5 linked regions of the Homo sapiens genome follow. The protein of the gene in region 1 purifies or fractionates together with the protein of each later gene. This does not show direct contact. Each region holds a gene or a part of one and is shown in the gene's direction. Other genes may lie near its edges.

Region 1 (3,936 bases):
CAAATTTTCCTTTTAAGCCGTTCTCTTTCCCCCCAAAATCGAAGTGGTTACTTTAGATGGGAATCTGGCCACTTCCCCATTACTCCGCTCTCGGTTTTTTTGTTTGTTTTAGTTTGAGACAGGGTCTCACCTTGTCACCCGGGTTGGAGTGCAGTTGACAGCTCATTGCAGCTTGGACCTCCGGGGCCACAGCGATTCTCCTGCCTCGGCCTCTCAGTAGGTAGGACTACAGGCACGCACCACCACACCCGGCTAATATTTGTAATTTTTTGTAGAGACAGGGTTTCGCCATGTTGCCCAGGCTGGTCTCGGACTCCTGAGCTCAATCTCTTGTTAACTGGACTCTGCAAGCCGCAGGGAGAAACGTGCTTTCCTTAGAAAACTAGACTAGAGCATATTTACTGATGCTAAAGAGGTTGGTTTTGTATTTCCCTGGGCAAATAATTCTCTCTGAGCCTCCGTTTCTTCTAGAGATGATGTCCATCTTGCAGGATTGAGAACTGGTATAAGCTCCATTATGAAAAGTGACTGACACAAGCTTGGCAGAAAACGGGTATACTCCGTTTCTCTCCTTAATATCCTCCATGCCATTTGATTGCACAGCAGGGTAGGCGAGTGAGAACTTAGTGTTAGACTCTGTAAAGTATTTAAGATGTGCAGCGAGCTCTGCCTGTCTGAAGTTTTCAACGGACCGGAAAAGGATACTTTCAGGTGCTGAATTATTAAGAAACATATGGTGGGCCCCATTTCCATTTCCCCAGGCTTAAAGGACATGGACAAGCAGGTGAGCCCCGCCCCTGTCTCTCTTCCAGGGCGGAGCTTGGGTAGGCCCCGCCCTCTTGCTCGGTGGGGCGGGGCGAGGGCTGGAGGCGGGGTAGGTCCAGCGAGCGAGCGAGCGCCCAGCGCCTCGGGCTGAGTGAGGGAGGAGGTTCGGTGGAGAGGCTGCAAGTGGGCGAGGGCTGGGCGCAGCGACCTCATTGGAGCCGGCCGGTGGACGCCCCGGCGGAACCGCCCAGAGTTCCTGTCCTGCGCTACCTACCCGAACGCGCCTGCGCGCTGCGAACCCCGCCCCGGTGTCACCTGTTGGAGCCCCCCGCCCGCGTAGCCGTGCACATGCGCACTGCCGGCCGCCGGCCAGTGGGGTCACGTGTTGCGCGCGAGCCACCTCCCCTGCTGGCGCTTCCTGTCGCTACCGCTGCGGCCCAGGGCCCGCGGGAGCCCAGGGCGGTGCCGGGTGAGACAAGGCCGGGGTTTGGCTCGGATTCACCGCGAGGTATGCCGCGTCCCCGCCCCTCGGCGTGGGGAGTTCTGGGGACCGCGGGGGTAGATGGAGGCGGCGCGGGCGGGGCAGGGCGGCGCGTCCCGCAGCGCGGGAGTGGGGGTCCCGTGTCGCCTCCCCCTACGGACTCCGTTGCCCACCTTCCGTGAGGCCTGGCTGTGTCATCGGGGCCGCAGCCTTGGAGTGTCTGGCCTCGCTTTCACCTGAGCCGGAGTCACTCCCGAAATCTGACACTCAGAGTCCCCCGGAGCGCCCGCCAGCTCCTCCGCCCGCTCCCCGCCGCCTCCACGCCCGTCAGCTGGTCTCCCCGCCAGCGCTGTGGCGAGATGCGCCGGCTTCCTGCCTTTTCCCCCTACCTTCTGTGCACCTCCCCTTTGGTGCCAGAATGGGGTTTCTGAAACACCGATACGATCCCGCCACTTCTTTCCCAGCGCCCTCAGAATAATGCCCAAACGCTTTTCGGCTTAGAGGTTTTCATATTCTGCCGCTTGCTCACATTTCCACCTCGGCTTGTGCATTCAGGCCTCACCGCTTATGCCCCAGTCATACCAGGCCTCAGGTTCCATTGTACAGGCCAAGCTGCTCCCCACTTCAGAGCCGTCAAGTGTTCCCTCGTCTTGGAATCCTATTTCCCTCTTTCCCCCAACTTCTTTGCGTGACTCAGCTCAGGCGTCACCGCCTCGAAGGAGGAGCCTTTTCTCCCAGGGCTGAAGAAGGGGTCACCTCAGGGCACCCATGGCCCCTGGGGCAACCCCGTGTAGTCCACCTCCACCCTGTAAATGGTCATTGAAGGCTGAGACCGTCTTAGGTTCATTTCTGCGCTCCCAGTGCCCAGCGCAAGGTCTGACACAGGAGGTCCTGTGAATAACTGTGAGATCTTTATGGGAATCAGAATGCTGAGCCAGCTTTCTCCAGAGCTCAGCTGTGAGATGGAACTTTGATGACATGTCCTTGGATGATGAAAATGTTCTGTGTGTGTGCTGTCTGGTCATAGCCCCTCACCACATATGGCTGTTAAGCACTTGGAATGTGTCTGTTGTGGCTGATGGACTGGATTTTTAGCTTTATTTCATTTTAATTCATTGAAATTTAAAATTAAATAGCCAGCTGTGGCTTCCATAAGCACAGCTTTAGAGCCTTTCTGAATTCTACCCAGCCTTCCACCCACCCTGAACCTAGAGTACTTCCCTGAATGTGCTTTTTAAATTTGAGTCCGTTCAGAACATTCCTCAGTAAACCCATTAACAGGTGATCCCCATCCCTCCCATGGCCTGTGCTGCTTCAGTGCTTTAATTAAAGGTAACCCATACTTTGGTGTTCAGCATTGCCTTCTTTGGGAGTTTACTATCCACACCTTACCACGGGTAGCACTGTTGGGGGCGTGGCTTATGGGCTACTCCAGCCTGAATCTCTGTAACTCTTCCATAGGTATCTAGGCTGCCATGATGCCAGGGCCAAGACCTCGGAAGGGCCCTCAGGCCAGAGGCCAAGGGGTGGCCGCTGCCAAGCAGGTATGGAACTTAGCCTTCTAGGCTACTGGGTCGGTTTGGGGATGGGGGTCCCTAGACAACTTAGGCAAACTGGATCACATGTAGTTCCCCCATTAGTTCAGAGACTTGGAGCAGTGCCTCCTGGAGGTGGCAGAGCCCTTAGACACCCTCCTACTAGTCTCTTCCACATACAAGTGGGGAGAGGGTTCAGGAATCACCAAAGTTTAGGATGTTCTGATGGGACCTCAGTGCTCTCAAAGGTTCCTTAGATAGGGTCACAACTTTGCTTGTTAGCCAGGGATGCCAGGGCATGAGGGCTGTAGTCAGTGGGAGGACTTCACTGCCTAGGGACAGATGGCTGTGCCCCAAGTGGAAGAACAGGGGGGTCTCCTCTCCAATTTTCTTCCTTTATTTCTTCTGGGCCTACATCTTGAGACTTCTTAGTCCATTTTTACTGTCTTTAAAAAGGCAGGTAAGAAAGGAGGTGGGGTAAAGGGCATAGACTCAAGTCGCAAAGAGCTTGTTTTAAATTCTGATTGTCTCACAAGACTGTCTCAGTTTCATCTGAACATTGGGATAAAAACAGAATGTAAGCTGGGTGCCGTGGATCACGCCTGTAATCCCAGCACTTTGGGAGGCCGAGGTGGGTGGATCACCTGAGGTCAGGAGTTTGAGACCAGCCTGGCCAACATAGTGAAACCCCATCTCTACTAAAAATACAAAAATTAGCTGGGCGTGGTGGCATGTGCCTGTATTCCCAGCTTCTTGGGAGGCTGAGGCAGGAGAATCGCTTAGACCCGGGAGGCAGAGGTTGCAGTGAGCCAAGATAGTGCCACTGCACTCTAGCCTGGGCGACAGAGCCAGACTCTGTCTCAGAAAAAAAAAAAAAAAAGGATGTACCTCTACCTAGAGTAGTCATATTCATGGAAACAGAAGAATGGTGCTTACCAGAGGCTGGAAGGAGGGGAGGAAGGGGGGTTAATGTTTAATGGGTAGAAAGTTTGTTTCACAACATGAAAACAGTTCTGTGGATGGATGATGGCGATGGTAGCAGGATATTGTGAATGTCCTTATGCCATTGAACTCACCCTTAACAGTGGTTAAGATGGTAAATTTCATGTTGTATGTGTTTTACCAGAGTTTAAAAAAATAGGACCTTCTTTTTTT
Region 2 (3,526 bases), about 150 Mb from region 1:
TTTTTTAGGCTGAGCATGGTGGCTCCCACCCGCCATCCCAGCACTTTGGGAGGCCAAGGTGGGTGGATCACCTGAGGTCAAGGGTTCAAGACCAGCCTGGCCAACATGGCAAAACCCTGTCTCTATCAAAAATACAAAAATTTGGCTGAGCCCGGTGGCTCATGCCTGTAATCCCAGCACTTTGGGAGGCCAAGGCAGGTGGATCACCTGAGGTCAGGAGTTCGAGACCAGCCTGGCCAACATGGCAAAACTCCTTCTCTACTAAAAATAAAAAAATTAGCCGGGTGTGGTGGTGGGTGCCTGTAATCCCAGCTACTCGGGAGGCCGAGGCAGGAGAATCACTTGAACCTGGGAGGCAGAGGTTGCAGTGAGCTGAGATCCCACTGTTGTACTCCAGCCTAAGCAAGAAGAGCAAAACTCCATCTCAAAAAACAAACAAGCAAACAACAACAAGAAATTAGCCGGGCATGGCTGCATGTGCCTGGAGTCCTAGCTACTCGGGAGGATGAGACAGGAGAATAGCTTGAACCCAGGAGGCACAGGCTGCAATGAGCCAAGATTGCACCACTGCACTCCAATCTGGGCGACAGAGTGAGACTCCAAATTAAAAAAAAAAAAATTTTTTTTTCATTAATAGACTCTAAGAATATGTGAAAGTAAATTTTTTATAGGCTTCTCCAAATGTCTTTCACTAATTAATCTAAATATGTATTTTAAAGATTTTCCAGCTGGGCGCAGTGGCTCACGCCTGTAATTCCAGCACTTTGGGAGGCCAAGGAGGGTGGATCACCTGAGGTCGGGAGTTCGAGACCAGCCTGACCAACATGGTGAAACCCTGTCTCTACTAAAAATACAAAATTAGCCAGGAGTGGTGGTGCGCACCTGTAATCCCAGCTACTCGGGAGGGTGAGGCAGGAGAATCGCTTGAACCTGGGAGGTGAGGTTGCAGTGAGGCGAGATTGCGCTATATTGCACTCCAGCCTGGGCAACAAGAGCAAAACTCCATCTCAAAAAAAAAAAAAAGGTTTTCCACAATCCCCTCTAAATTGAAATGGTCACAAGCCATTCATTGTAAAGGGTAACAGTTTGACATTATTTTAGGGTTTTCGTGTTTTATGTCTTAGAATAAAGATTATTGGAAGACATTCTTTCTCTCTCATACTATGTTAAGATATTTTTCTAACTTTAGCTTTCAAAAACAGTGAACATAGATTTGAATGTAATTGAGAATTGTAGAGCAAAGCAATGATGTAACTTTAAAGTATAGGAGTCATGTATTCACGCTTTAATTCAGCTTGTCTACTGCTTAAAATTACATTCCCTTGTTACTTTATATGTAATAGTGGTTACATAGTCTTGTCCAAGTTCATTCTTTGTGAATTTAGGTCCCCTTTATACATTTTGTAGAATTTTTTTTTTTTTTATGTTGTGGGATACATGTGCAGGATGTGCAGGTTTGTTACATACGTAAATGTGTGCCATGGTGATTTGCTGCACCCATCAACCCATCACCTAGGTATTAAGCCCAGCATGCATTAGCTAATTTTTAATGCTCTCCCTCTCCATCCCCCCACCCTGCCCCCTCCCTCGCCACAGGCCCCAGTGTGTGTTGTTCCCCTCCCTGTGTCCATGTGTTCTCATTGTTCAGCTCCCACTTATAAGCGAGAACATGGCAGTGTTTGGTCTTTTGTGCCTGCATTAGTTTGCTGAGGATAATGGCCTCCAGCTCCATCCATGTCCCTGCAAAGAGCATGATCTCCTTCCCTTTTTATGGCTGCATAGTATTCCATGGTGTGTATGTACCACATTTTCTTTATCCAGTCTATCATTGATGGGCATTTGAGTTGATTCCATCATTTTGCAGAAATGTTGAAGGATAGAATTTGCCCTTTTACAATGAAATAAAGCTGCAGATTATATCCTATATTGGCCACTGTGTTGGCCTTTTCAGTCAGTTATGTTTTCAGTCAATTATTAATCTTTTGCACTATCTTGTCAAATATAAAATTCTTTAATCATTATATCATGGTAATTCTGATATTGCAGAGGATAGTGAAGATGAAAAAGAAGATCATAAAAATGTGCGCCAACAACGGCAGGCGGCATCTAAAGCAGCTTCTAAACAGAGAGAGATGCTCATGGAAGATGTGGGCAGTGAGGAAGAACAAGAAGAGGAGGATGAGGCACCATTCCAGGAGAGTATGTGAAGTTGTTTTGTGTACTTTGGTTGTTTGGTCATAATTGTAGTTTGTGACCTTGGTTACTTTGGCATTTTCTAGGATGCTAAATGTTACAACCAGTCCCTTAAATTGGGTAGATACTCCGTGTTAAAAGAGATGACTGTATTGGTTCCTGTTAATATTTTTAAAGGTTCAGAGATTCTCACGATTGCCCACCATTTGTAATGGTTGCACCCTTTATTTAATGATGTCTGTGTTCAAACACTGAATGAACAATTTGCTTAAGTAACAGTCACATTAGGCATTGTGATTGAGATTTGTATTTTGCCCTGGTGGAGGAGGTTGTAGACCTCTTTTCACAGAAAAAAACATGTTAATAATAAAATTTAGGTGTTTCACAGGTTATTCAGATTAGTTAATCCTATGTATTTTTGTTTTGTGTTTGGTTTTCTTGTTTCACTTATTCATAATTGGACCAAAAAGGCCCTGTCAGTTCAGTTTTGTTTCCCTGGTCTCAACCAGTACTACTTGGAAGTGATGGAACTACCAAAAGTTATTTGATAGTTTCAGTTTTTATTCAGATTAACTCTTACCCTTCCTGTTTTCAATCTACTTTTCAAACACATCACTCATGTAACTCTCTCATGTAAGGTGCATGCAAAATCCATTTGACAAATGAGGCCAGTGATGACTCCAGTCAAATTGGTAGTACAGCTCCAAATAGAATCCAAGGGTGTTTGACTCCCAAATCCCATCCTCTAGTCATTCTTAGCACTCTCTTCCTTTTTTACTTGGAAGGATGTGTACATTAAGTTAGATGTTGAAATTCTTCTTTCTTCTCAGAAGATTCCGGCAGCGATGAAGATTTCCTAATGGAAGATGATGACGATAGTGACTATGGCAGTTCGAAAAAGAAAAACAAAAAGATGGTTAAGAAGTCCAAACCTGAAAGAAAAGAAAAGAAAATGCCCAAACCCAGACTAAAGGCTACAGGTAATTTCTGCAGAAGTGAAATTAAATTTACTGCTTTAAAAATTTTGAGAATCATTATTTTCAATACAGAAATTCCTCATTAGGATTTGGCATTGGCCTGATGTTTAGCAGGAATACAAGAAATCTAAAAGGGTCTTGTATTCTGCAACTGGAAGTATCTCTTATTAATAAAGACACTAGCCTGTTTAAGAGTCTAGTGGGCTTAGCCATGTTCTTCAACTACTGCCAGTACTTGAGCAAGATTTCAGAATGATCTATTTGTTTCAGACACAGTGGTAGAAACACTGTGTCATCATAGTTGTTACTGCTCTTTTTTCCTCACTGGTATCACAGTCTCAGCAGCCAGCAAAGAC
Region 3 (3,526 bases), on another chromosome or scaffold:
CAGCCAAGGAAACCAGGGCTCTAAGAGACAAAGACAAAAAAAAAGCATAATAACTTTAGCACTTTGATGTGCTTCTTATTTAATAGGGTTGGAGTGGGGGAAGTTTTTTTTATTTTTTTTTTAACATTTTACAAGGAGAAAAGTTGTCTCTTAGAATTAAACCGAATGTTGATATTCAATCATGAATCTCAGTTGTTGCCTTTTTGGAACTTGAACAATGAGTGATGCTGGGGCCAGTTTCTGTGCACAGTGCACTGGGATGAGAAAGTTCCCAGAACTGTCCAGTTATAATGTCTTCATATCATCTGAATCACACAGAGAACTCCACATGAAAGGCAGCTGGCTCAGAGATCAGAAATCAGTCAGCTGCTGGGCTGGCTCCATCTCTTGTGGCTGCAGGATTTTCACAGCCAGGGTTTGTTGACCAGCGACTGGCTCTCAAGCCTTTTAGAAATCTTTCTTTCAAATTTTATTTATTCTGGTCTCTGGCGGAGTCATTTTGGGGATTTTTTTAATAGGACCCAGTCTGTCTGTTAACTAGCAATTACAGTTGTGCTGAGCTACTCAAAAATGAAATGAGTAGCAATAAACAGTGGATACCCACTGACCTGTATGCTATACGGTTATTTTGCTAGCCCACAGCCTTTGTAAAGCTATGGCTCTTCAGGCTGCTCACAGAAGAACATTTTGATGTGTCAGGTTATGTTATCATCCCTGCTTTCTTCTTCATACGATCCTGAATGACCTTAGCTAATCTGGCTGATGAATTATGTCAAATAGAAAGAAGTAGGCAATTACCAGGCAGGAGAGGGTATTTAGTCATTACCAGCAGGTCTGAGGAGTGCTCCTGGTGGCTGTTGCGTTGTTATGCTATATTAATAGCTCACAAAGCATAAAGGACTATTGTGGCTTTATTTTACCAGTTGTGGCATTGGGGTATGGCATTCCTTCATAGCCCACATCTGTCCAGTTGCCTGGTGGGTTGGCTTTTTCCTCTAGGGCAAGAAGGAGAAAGATAGTAATGAGGATATTTGATTTTTTTTTCCATTGTGGGGTCATCCCCAGGTTTTTCTTTTTTTTCCTTCTGCAGGAGCCTTGAGTAGGGAATCATCTGATGGGAGCAGGTGGGCCTGTCCATTTGAATTGATTTCCTTTGATTGCTGAAGAAGGACTATTGATGAACCACTTCTTTGCTGATTGTGGCAAACATTAGAATTGGAATGGAAATTTAAAAGAAAGGGATCTGACAGACTTAGAGTGAAGGATTTGTGTTCTGCCCAATTCCTTCCTAGAGTTAGCAGAGCCTCTGATTTCTACAGATATGCATGGTCTTAAAAATATTAAAGGAAGCACAACTCCTGTGTATGCAGTTTTACTTATTGGTGAAATTTTCTGCAATGCTTTTTTGATCTCTAACTGTTGAATATGTCATTTTCATCATCTTTCTACCCAAATTGTGAGGAGTGGGTCTTTGTTTTTTAATATATCCTGACCTCTTGAGGATCACCACAGTGTGACAACTTTCTCTGGGAAGACTCAGAGAGTAAATATCTTTTCTGTGTTTTGGTCGATTTAATTCTACAGGCTTCTCAAACTTACTGAGTTTTCTGTCAATTGCAGGGTATCTACTCCTTTAATAAGCTTTATTCCTTTCCTTGTTTTCTTTTTTTGTTTTTTCGTGTTTTTTTTTTTTTTGTTTTTTGTTTTTTTTTACATTGCCTCCCTTTCTCCAAATTTCTAAGAATAATTTTCAGGAAAGACTGCCTTTCCTTGAAAAAGAAATTCAGCTTAATGACACAGACTGCATTTATTGAGAACATATTTGACACTTGTCTAGTGGCTTCAAGCCAGTTTCTGGTCTACCAAAATAGGCTATCAGTTACATGTAATAGTGACAAATGACCCATTCTAGCAGTTCTGAATTGGAATGGCATTTTCAGGTTAGTCTTAATTTTAGCATATTCCAGGACTTAGATTTTTTTTCTTTTTTTTTTTTTTTTTCTGCTAAGTGGAAGGGATGAAAATTTGAGAATGGATTAACTGGCATGATGATAGAAAATAGAAAACAGATTTCAGAACTTAATCAATTAAACTCTTCACATAAACAAAATATTACTTCCTTCACCAGATAGATATATATGAATGTGGAGAGCCTAGAGGAGGTGTGAGGAGGGCCACAGCATTGTCCTTCCTTGAACAATGCATTATTGAAGGTGTTGCCTACCGTGGGCGGAAAAGTCATACAGAGGACCCTGAGAGGAGTCCTTGAGCAGTTGTTAGTATTTCAACGTTCTGCTCTTCCAGGGTTCCAAAACTGTGAATTATAGACTCTTTAATAAAGGAAAGTTGTTTCTTTAACTTTTGCCTTTGTACATCTGAAATATATCCCTTTTTAAAATTCTGTAAAGTCACATGGAATTTAAAATAATTTTTTGTCTTTAAAAAATGTCTTGCTTTCTCCTCTATTTTCCCTATTTTATTTTTGTTATTTATTTATTTAGAAACAGAGTCTCGCTCCATTGCCCAGGCTGGAGTGCAGTGGCGTGTTCTTGGCTCACTGCAACCTCCGCCTCCTGGGTTCAAGTGATTCTCATGCCTCAGTCTCCCGAGTAACTGGGATTACAGGCGCACACCACCATGCCCTCTTAATTTTTATATTTTTAGTAGACAGGGTGTTTCACCATGTTGGCCAGGCTGGTCTCGAACTCCTGGCCTCAAGTGATCCACCCACCTCGGCCTCCCAAAGTGCTCGGATTAGAGGCATGAGCCACCGTCCTCAGCCCTGTTATTTATTTTTTAAAAAAATTATTTTAAAGTTCTTTTCAGCGATATTTACTGAATCTACCTCTTTCACAAGACAGTGGGCAAGATTCAAAGAATAGTAAAATATATCCATTGCTTCTGCTTCGTGCTGTTTATTGAGAAAATGAGAGATGCCTGTGTGTGTACACTAGAAGTCACATCTAAAAATGTTTATTAATTGACAAAAGAATGTCTATGAACAGGAGCCTCAAGGAGGAGGGAGAGATTAATGTGAGGTGGAGTAAACTTTTAAGAGGAGTGTAAGTTATTAAAGTGAATATAATTCCATTTAATAATTCTTACTACAGCCCTAATGTATGCAAGGCACTATGAAATAAATTAATTCCTTCATTTGTCAGGGGGCAGTGCAGAGCTCCTTTTTGGAAGAACGTATTCATGGGGCAGCCCAAATGGGCTGTCGGAATGTTAGTTAATATTTTGAGAAGACTTCAGAATTTATTCATGTCCTTTCTCCACTATCCCCTTGTGGTCTCCCACCCCCCAATTTCAAAGGTAACTTTTAGGATTTTTGAATGTGTCTGGGAGCCTGCATGCAGGTGCACATGGTGTATTCTTAGTCCTCTGTTTTCCTATGTTTGAGACTCAGTTATGAATCTCAAGGTTAACTTTGTCACAGAACACCTCAGAGTGTTCTGTCCTTTAGGTATTCATCATTTAGATCTGTTGCTTGGTTTTTTACCTTAAAAAAATTTGTAAAAAATGG
Region 4 (2,454 bases), on another chromosome or scaffold:
CATCACATTCAGGGTGCAGAACTTTGCCGTCACCCTCTCATGCCCCGTGCAGTCAGCTGCTCTCTCCCTGACCCAGCCCCAGAGAACCACTGGTCTACTTTCTGCCCCTATGAGTAAGTTTTGCTTTTTGTAGAAATGGAATTTCACAGAAATTGAATCATATAGTATGTATTCTCTTGTGTCTGGCTTCTCTGGTTTAACATAATTTTGAGATTCATCCATTGCTTGCAGGTAACAGCAGTTCCTCTTTGTTGCTAGTATTCTGTTACATGGGTAAACCACACTTTATTCTTCCACCCATTGATGGACATTTGGATGTTTCTATCTTATGCCTATTATGAATAAAGCTGATATGCACATTTGTGAAAAAGTCTTTGTGTGGACATATGTTTTTATTTTCCTTGAGTAAATCCTAAGAGTAGAATTATTGAGTCATGTGGTAAGTGTACATTTAATTTACTGTTAACCAAAACTGGTTTCCAAAATGCCCAGGCCATTTTATATTTCCCCAGCAATGTGTGAGACTCCATATCCTCAGGCAACAGTTAGCACCTTCAGTCTGCTCGATTTTAGTGGGTGCATAAGGGCACTCCTTGTGGTTTTAATTTGCATTTCTCGGGTGACTGATGATAGCACATCACTTTTTTTGTATCATTATACTTTTAAGTTCTAGGGTACATGTGCACAACGTGCAGGTTTGTTACATATGTATACATGTGCCATGTTGGTGTGCTGCACCCATTAACTCGTCATTTACATTAGGTATATCTGCTAATGCTATCCCTCCCCCCTCCCCCCACCCCACAACAGGCCCCGGTGTGTGATGTCCCCCTTCCTGTGTCCATGTGTTCTCATTGTTCAATTCCCACCTATGAGTGGGAACATGCGGTGTTTATTTTTTTGTCCTTGGGATAGTTTGCTGAGAATGAGCACATCACTTTTAAATGGTAGCTCACTTCTAGGGAAGGAAGGAGAGCGATGAGTCAAAAGAAGTTCCACTGTTTTTGAGCTTAGGTGTCCAAGAGAATAAAACTGGTGCCACCAACAAAAGTGAAATTAGGAGTCAGTGATTTTTTGGCATAGGGGTATTAAATTTGAAGTGATGGCAGGATGTTAAGGGGGAAATAACTGGGTGGCAGCATGCTTTGCAGGCTTGGAGCTCAGTGGGAGGTCAGGTCCTGAGATAAGAGCCAAGTATCCGCTGAGAGGTGAAGCACAAACGGGGAGAGAGAGAGAGATGAGACCCAAGGATCAAGCCAGGGCTCAGAGTGGCCAGAAGCATCTGTTCCCCAGTCCCCATTTCCAAGTAATGGAAAATCCAGACTGACAGGCCTAATAGGCCTAAAAATAGATAAAATTAGCCCACTTATATATGAGCCACTGGAATACTTTCTAGTCCTATTGCAAACTCTACTCTTGGCTACTTTGATTGTTAAAATTGTAAATTAAAAGTTATCTATACCCTTTTTAAAAAAGAGTTTCAATATGGTTTGTGACAATCAGTTAATTATCTTTGTGGCCTGAGGGGCCCCCTTCTTTTAATCACCTTAACCAATAAAGCAATAATGTCTTTCTGAAGTTGATTCTTTTTGATGGTTTGTGTTTGGATGTTCAAGGTTAATGAGGAAATGATCCTTACCACGCTTTTGTAATTTTAATACAGACAGGGTCTTGCTTTGTTGCCCAGGTTAGTCTCCTGGGCTCAAGGATCCTCTGGCCTCAGCCTCCCAAAGTGCTAGGATTATAGGCATGAGCCACTGCGCCCAGCCTCTTGCTACACTTTCATTCAGGATAAAGATGGTAATATCCAAGACTACTGAAAGTCTTATAACCCCAATCCAAATTTTAAAATAAATCTTACTATTAAGAAGCATTGATTGGCCATGTGCAGTGGCTCACACCTGTAATCCCAGCACTTTGGGAGGCTAAGGTGGGTGGATCATGAGGTCAGGAGTTTGAGACCAGCCTGACCAACATGGTGAAATCCTGTCTCTACTAAAATACAAAAAAAAATTAGCCGGCAATGGTGGCAGGCGCCTGTAATCCCAGCTACTCGGGAGGCTGAGGCAGGAGAATCGCTTGAACCCGGGTGGCAGAGGTTGCAGTGAGCCGACATAGCTAGCACCACTGCACTCCAGCCTGGGTGACAGAGCAAGACTCCCTCTCAAAAAAAAAAAAAAAAAAACATTGATTATAGGAGGCCGGGCATGGTAGCTCATGCTTGCAATCCCAGCACTTTGGGTGGCCCAGGTGGGCCAACCGCTTGAGCCCAGGAGTTTGAGAGCAGCTTGGGCAACATGATAAAAACCAGCTTCTACCAAAAAAAAAAAAAAAAATGCTGGGCCTAGTGGTGTGCAACTACAGTCCCAGCTACTTGAGAGACTGAAGCGGGAGGATCACTTGAGCCAGAGAGGCAAAGGTTGCAGTGATCAGAGATCGTACTACTGCATTCCA
Region 5 (3,958 bases), on another chromosome or scaffold:
TTGAAAGTGATAGAGTCCCTCTAAAGGTACAGTCCTTAGAAAGAGGGACTGTATTAAAAAGTATTTTGGGAATATCAAAGCTTTAATATTCCAACAAAGACTAAGAGAAAAACAATACTCAGTGGGTGATTGCAGTCCTAAATTGTCATATGTTGTTATTTTCAGGTCAAGAGCATCAACTTCAATTCCATACATTCACCAAATATTCTCAGTATACACACAGTCTTGATTACATGTATCAATTTCACCAGTTATGACTTCTAAAAATTATATATATTTTTTCAGAACAAGACCACTATTATTAACTAACTTGAACAATTGTATCATCCAAAGGCCAAAGATCATATGGCAGATCAGGGAAGTCATGAAGTTGATTTGGTCTTGACGTGGAAAACCATTAAACAACAAAAGCAACTGAACCCATGTATGCACAGAAACAATCAAACACTAGTTCATTTTATAGTGCCCAGGAAAATGTTCCTTCTTTTAAAATGGATTTTATTTGAAAGCGCAGAAAATGAAAACTAGTGAGATATATTTTTGGTATTATAATAGGCAATTGGTTGAGGTTCAAGTTTAGTTTCAGGTAATATTATCAGGGAAGATTCCATGTTTTAAAATAGTATTTATGGATCATGGGTAGGTTAAGAAAGATGCATTGGCATATAGTCTTGATAGTTAAGTCCACGATTATCATTTTAGAATCCAGGCTATGCTTGCTGCTCTTTTTATCCACATTTTAAATTACAATTGCATTTTTTACTTGTTCAGTGCACACTTTGATGCACCACAAGTGCATTAATTTTGAATCGTGTGCAATATAGAAATATTTTGAGACTCACAACATTGAAACAAGGTGACACCCTAGTTGACTTTATCACTAATGTGATTTGAACATTATTTAAACAAATCTAGACTGAACATGAAAGAAAGGAGTTTTGGGCAGTGACATTTTTCACAGAATGTATATCTCAAAGGTGAAAGCAGAGTTTTTCCAGTGCAATAAAAAGAAACAGAATATGCAGATTTTGAGCTACTCACTCTATAGAGGATAACCTAACACGGCTGAAAATTGAGCTGGGACATTCAGACGAAAGTGACAATCCATGGACAGAATAGGGAATAACAGGTGTGAAGAGAACAAACTTATCACTGAATGTTTGCAAGCTGGTTAAGGCATAGCCTTGATGGCTCTCTAGCAAACTGTAGAAACAATGTAGCTTTGGGTAGTTTCATGCTTTGCAGAATTTCTTAGACTATAAAGTGACACAGCCTGGAATATAGGTTGATAATTCACTATAGGTCTTCAAAATACTTATCTTTGAAAACCGCTTCTCTGTTTGGTGGGGTACAATTTGGGGGTCATTTCCTTATGCTCTTTCTTAAATGGAGTTTTCATTTTGATGTTAGTTTATGTATAATAGGTAGGATGCAAAAAGATATGTAATTGAAACAAAAAACATTGGACTAAAATATCAGTAATTGAACATGTTTATGTTTGATTATTATTTACACTATGGAAAGATGCAATTCTAGTACTTTGTTAGGAAACTGCATTAAAGCAGTTCTGCCTTGTATAATCTGTAAGTACCTATTAAGACAAAATACTTCTAAAGATACTTATGAAATGTATACACATTTTTTCTTGCACGTTACAAAGAAAATACTCAATTGCATAACACGGATGTTTGACAAACTTTTTTTTTTTTAATGCATTTCTTTCTTTCATGAGACATTGAAACCACTGATAGCTCATTTCACCCTATCTTAAACCCTTCTCTTGTCTATAAAACTAATACGGGTCACACCGGACCTTCGGATTAATTGGATCCACATTCCCCAATGATGTTTGCACCCCATTCAAGATAGCCATGCCATTGTCATTTAACTCGTGAACCTCTCTTTAAAACTAAAATGGATGTGAAAGAATAAAATTCAGTGTACTGTAAGTATTCACAGTAATTCTAGTAGAATTAGCTGTCATAACATGTTTATTATATAATGAGCTGGCATGACACAGAAATATATTTTGTGTTTGTATGACTTTTATTTTAAATAGGTTAAATCTGGTGCCACTCCATATATAGAGTGCTTTTGAAAAAAAATCAATAAAAAGAAACAAAAAAAATAAATGAGTGAATGCAAAATAAGCAACTGTGCCTTTTATACCTGTTGTTACGGTAAAAAAACGGTTGTTGGGTTTGGACAATGAGGGGAAATGGGCTATTCCCAACTTTTTTGATCCTGTATATTTGTCCATGTTTATTTTCTGAACATAATAAATAATATATTAAAAATTTGCCTTCTGACAAACTCAGATAATGGACCAGTCTTAAATATTGTTATGTCATAAAGCAAAGTTAAGGCATTAATATGGGCTGCTTAAATCTGACTAGAAGATGAAAGCGTTTATTGTAAGTGTAACACAGAGATACTATCAGGAGTGAAATCAGTCCATTTGGCAAGGTAAAATACTGATTTAGAGTTTTATTCTTTATTTCTTTTTTGTTGTGTTTCTTTCAGCTATGGTTTCATTTTGGTTGTACAGTATATAAACCATATTTGTTTTCTGTACACAAGACTCTCAAGTGAATTTTGCATGCATTATACATTAGGACACATTTATAAATTAATGAGTAACTATATAAATTTATGTGTATTAAAACGTCTGTAGCTTCAATCTAAAATCTACTGCTCTTTCTGAATCTCCAGATATCATTTCTGTATGGTTTCTGACTGGCCTGCTGCCTGAGTTTCAGAAAACAAGGGAGGCATTATTTTTATGGGAGGAGGAACTAAGATGGTACTGAGGATGTCTGACTGAAACACTACCCTAGGAAGCTGTCTTGTAGGAAAATAGAATAAAACACACAGACCAGAAGAAATTGTCAAGAAGCAAACAGCCATCCAAAAACAGTCATGAGAAATCTAAAGACCTAAATAATCTTAGGTATATGCTCTCAGTGAGAAATAAGAAAATGTGTCCTTAAGCAAAAATAAATAAATAAATAAATAAATAAATAAATAATAAAAAGTGAGCATGATCATGAATATAGTAAATCTTGTGAGTTGTGACCTAGGTGAAGGTGTAATGATAACATCTGGAGGAAGCATCATTTGTTCAGCTACCTAGGGTTTACTTTCAGACTTTTCCTACAGTTTAAAGCACTTGCGTTCAGTGTGGTACGATCTGTTTGTAATGTTAATCATTGACTATTGTTCTGCTACTTGGATGTTGATAGTGAAGCAGAGAACAATTTATCATCGTTTATTATGAGTCACTATGCACGCAACTATGCTTAACATGGCGAAATGTATTAAACACTCGTCCAACTATTTATGAAATACTTTGCATAATTTAATTTGCTTTTGTACAGTTTTATGTAAATAAATTGCTTGTCATTTTTGTCTCTGCAAATTAAAATATAACATGGTCAAATGGTTTCACACTTGTAAGTGTACTTCTCTGTTGACAGGTAATTCAGTTTTGATTGGACGAAAAGTGAATGGATGCATGTACCAGTTTGATTTAAGATGGTTTGATTCCTTGTAAATTAAGACACAACAAGGAGGCTAATGTGGCAGCAATTGTTGATTTAGGGGGGGCCATTCATAACTGTCACATTACTTTGCCTCGTAATGGAATAGAACTCGGATCCTTCAGTTTCATCAAAATAATTCCTGAGACATTTACCTAGCTAGCTTATTACCTTAAAGTGTATGGCAGAAAAAGGAACTTAACATCATTAACATGAAGACTGATTTATTTTCAGAGGCATCTACAGGAATTTCACATTTAAGATAAAAGTAATCCTAAGTCAAAATGTATCTTTGTTTTGGAAATATTTGTTTTTAATCTAACTTAACAACAAATACAAAAAAGTTATAGGCTTTAAAAAATCATGCAAAATGTAGAGAAAATAAAGGAAAAATATAATTTTTACTTCGATAACTTACT

The links.
Region 2: the proteins of CC2D1B (region 1) and NUCKS1 fractionate together in Homo sapiens (co-fractionation; one large-scale study listed by BioGRID). This does not show direct contact.
Region 3: the proteins of CC2D1B (region 1) and FAT3 purify together in Homo sapiens (affinity purification with mass spectrometry; one large-scale study listed by BioGRID and IntAct). This does not show direct contact.
Region 4: the proteins of CC2D1B (region 1) and ZNF843 purify together in Homo sapiens (co-immunoprecipitation; one large-scale study listed by IntAct). This does not show direct contact.
Region 5: the proteins of CC2D1B (region 1) and PCDH7 purify together in Homo sapiens (affinity purification with mass spectrometry; one large-scale study listed by BioGRID and IntAct). This does not show direct contact.

What each region holds. Positions count from the first base shown.
Region 1 is NC_000001.11:52,363,406-52,367,341, reverse strand, and holds the start of CC2D1B (coiled-coil and C2 domain-containing protein 1B), read left to right. Parts: upstream 1-1,136; 5' UTR 1,137-1,273; intron 1,274-2,707; 5' UTR 2,708-2,721; coding exon 2,722-2,790; intron 2,791-3,936. UniProt on the Homo sapiens protein: Transcription factor that binds specifically to the DRE (dual repressor element) and represses HTR1A gene transcription in neuronal cells.
Region 2 is NC_000001.11:205,719,174-205,722,699, reverse strand, and holds part of NUCKS1 (nuclear ubiquitous casein and cyclin-dependent kinase substrate 1), read left to right. Parts: intron 1-2,046; coding exon 2,047-2,199; intron 2,200-3,023; coding exon 3,024-3,173; intron 3,174-3,526.
Region 3 is NC_000011.10:92,227,812-92,231,337, forward strand, and holds part of FAT3 (protocadherin Fat 3 isoform 1 precursor), read left to right. Parts: intron 1-3,526.
Region 4 is NC_000016.10:31,437,351-31,439,804, reverse strand, and holds part of ZNF843 (zinc finger protein 843), read left to right. Parts: intron 1-2,454.
Region 5 is NC_000004.12:31,143,357-31,147,314, forward strand, and holds the end of PCDH7 (protocadherin-7 isoform d precursor), read left to right. Parts: 3' UTR 1-3,444; downstream 3,445-3,958.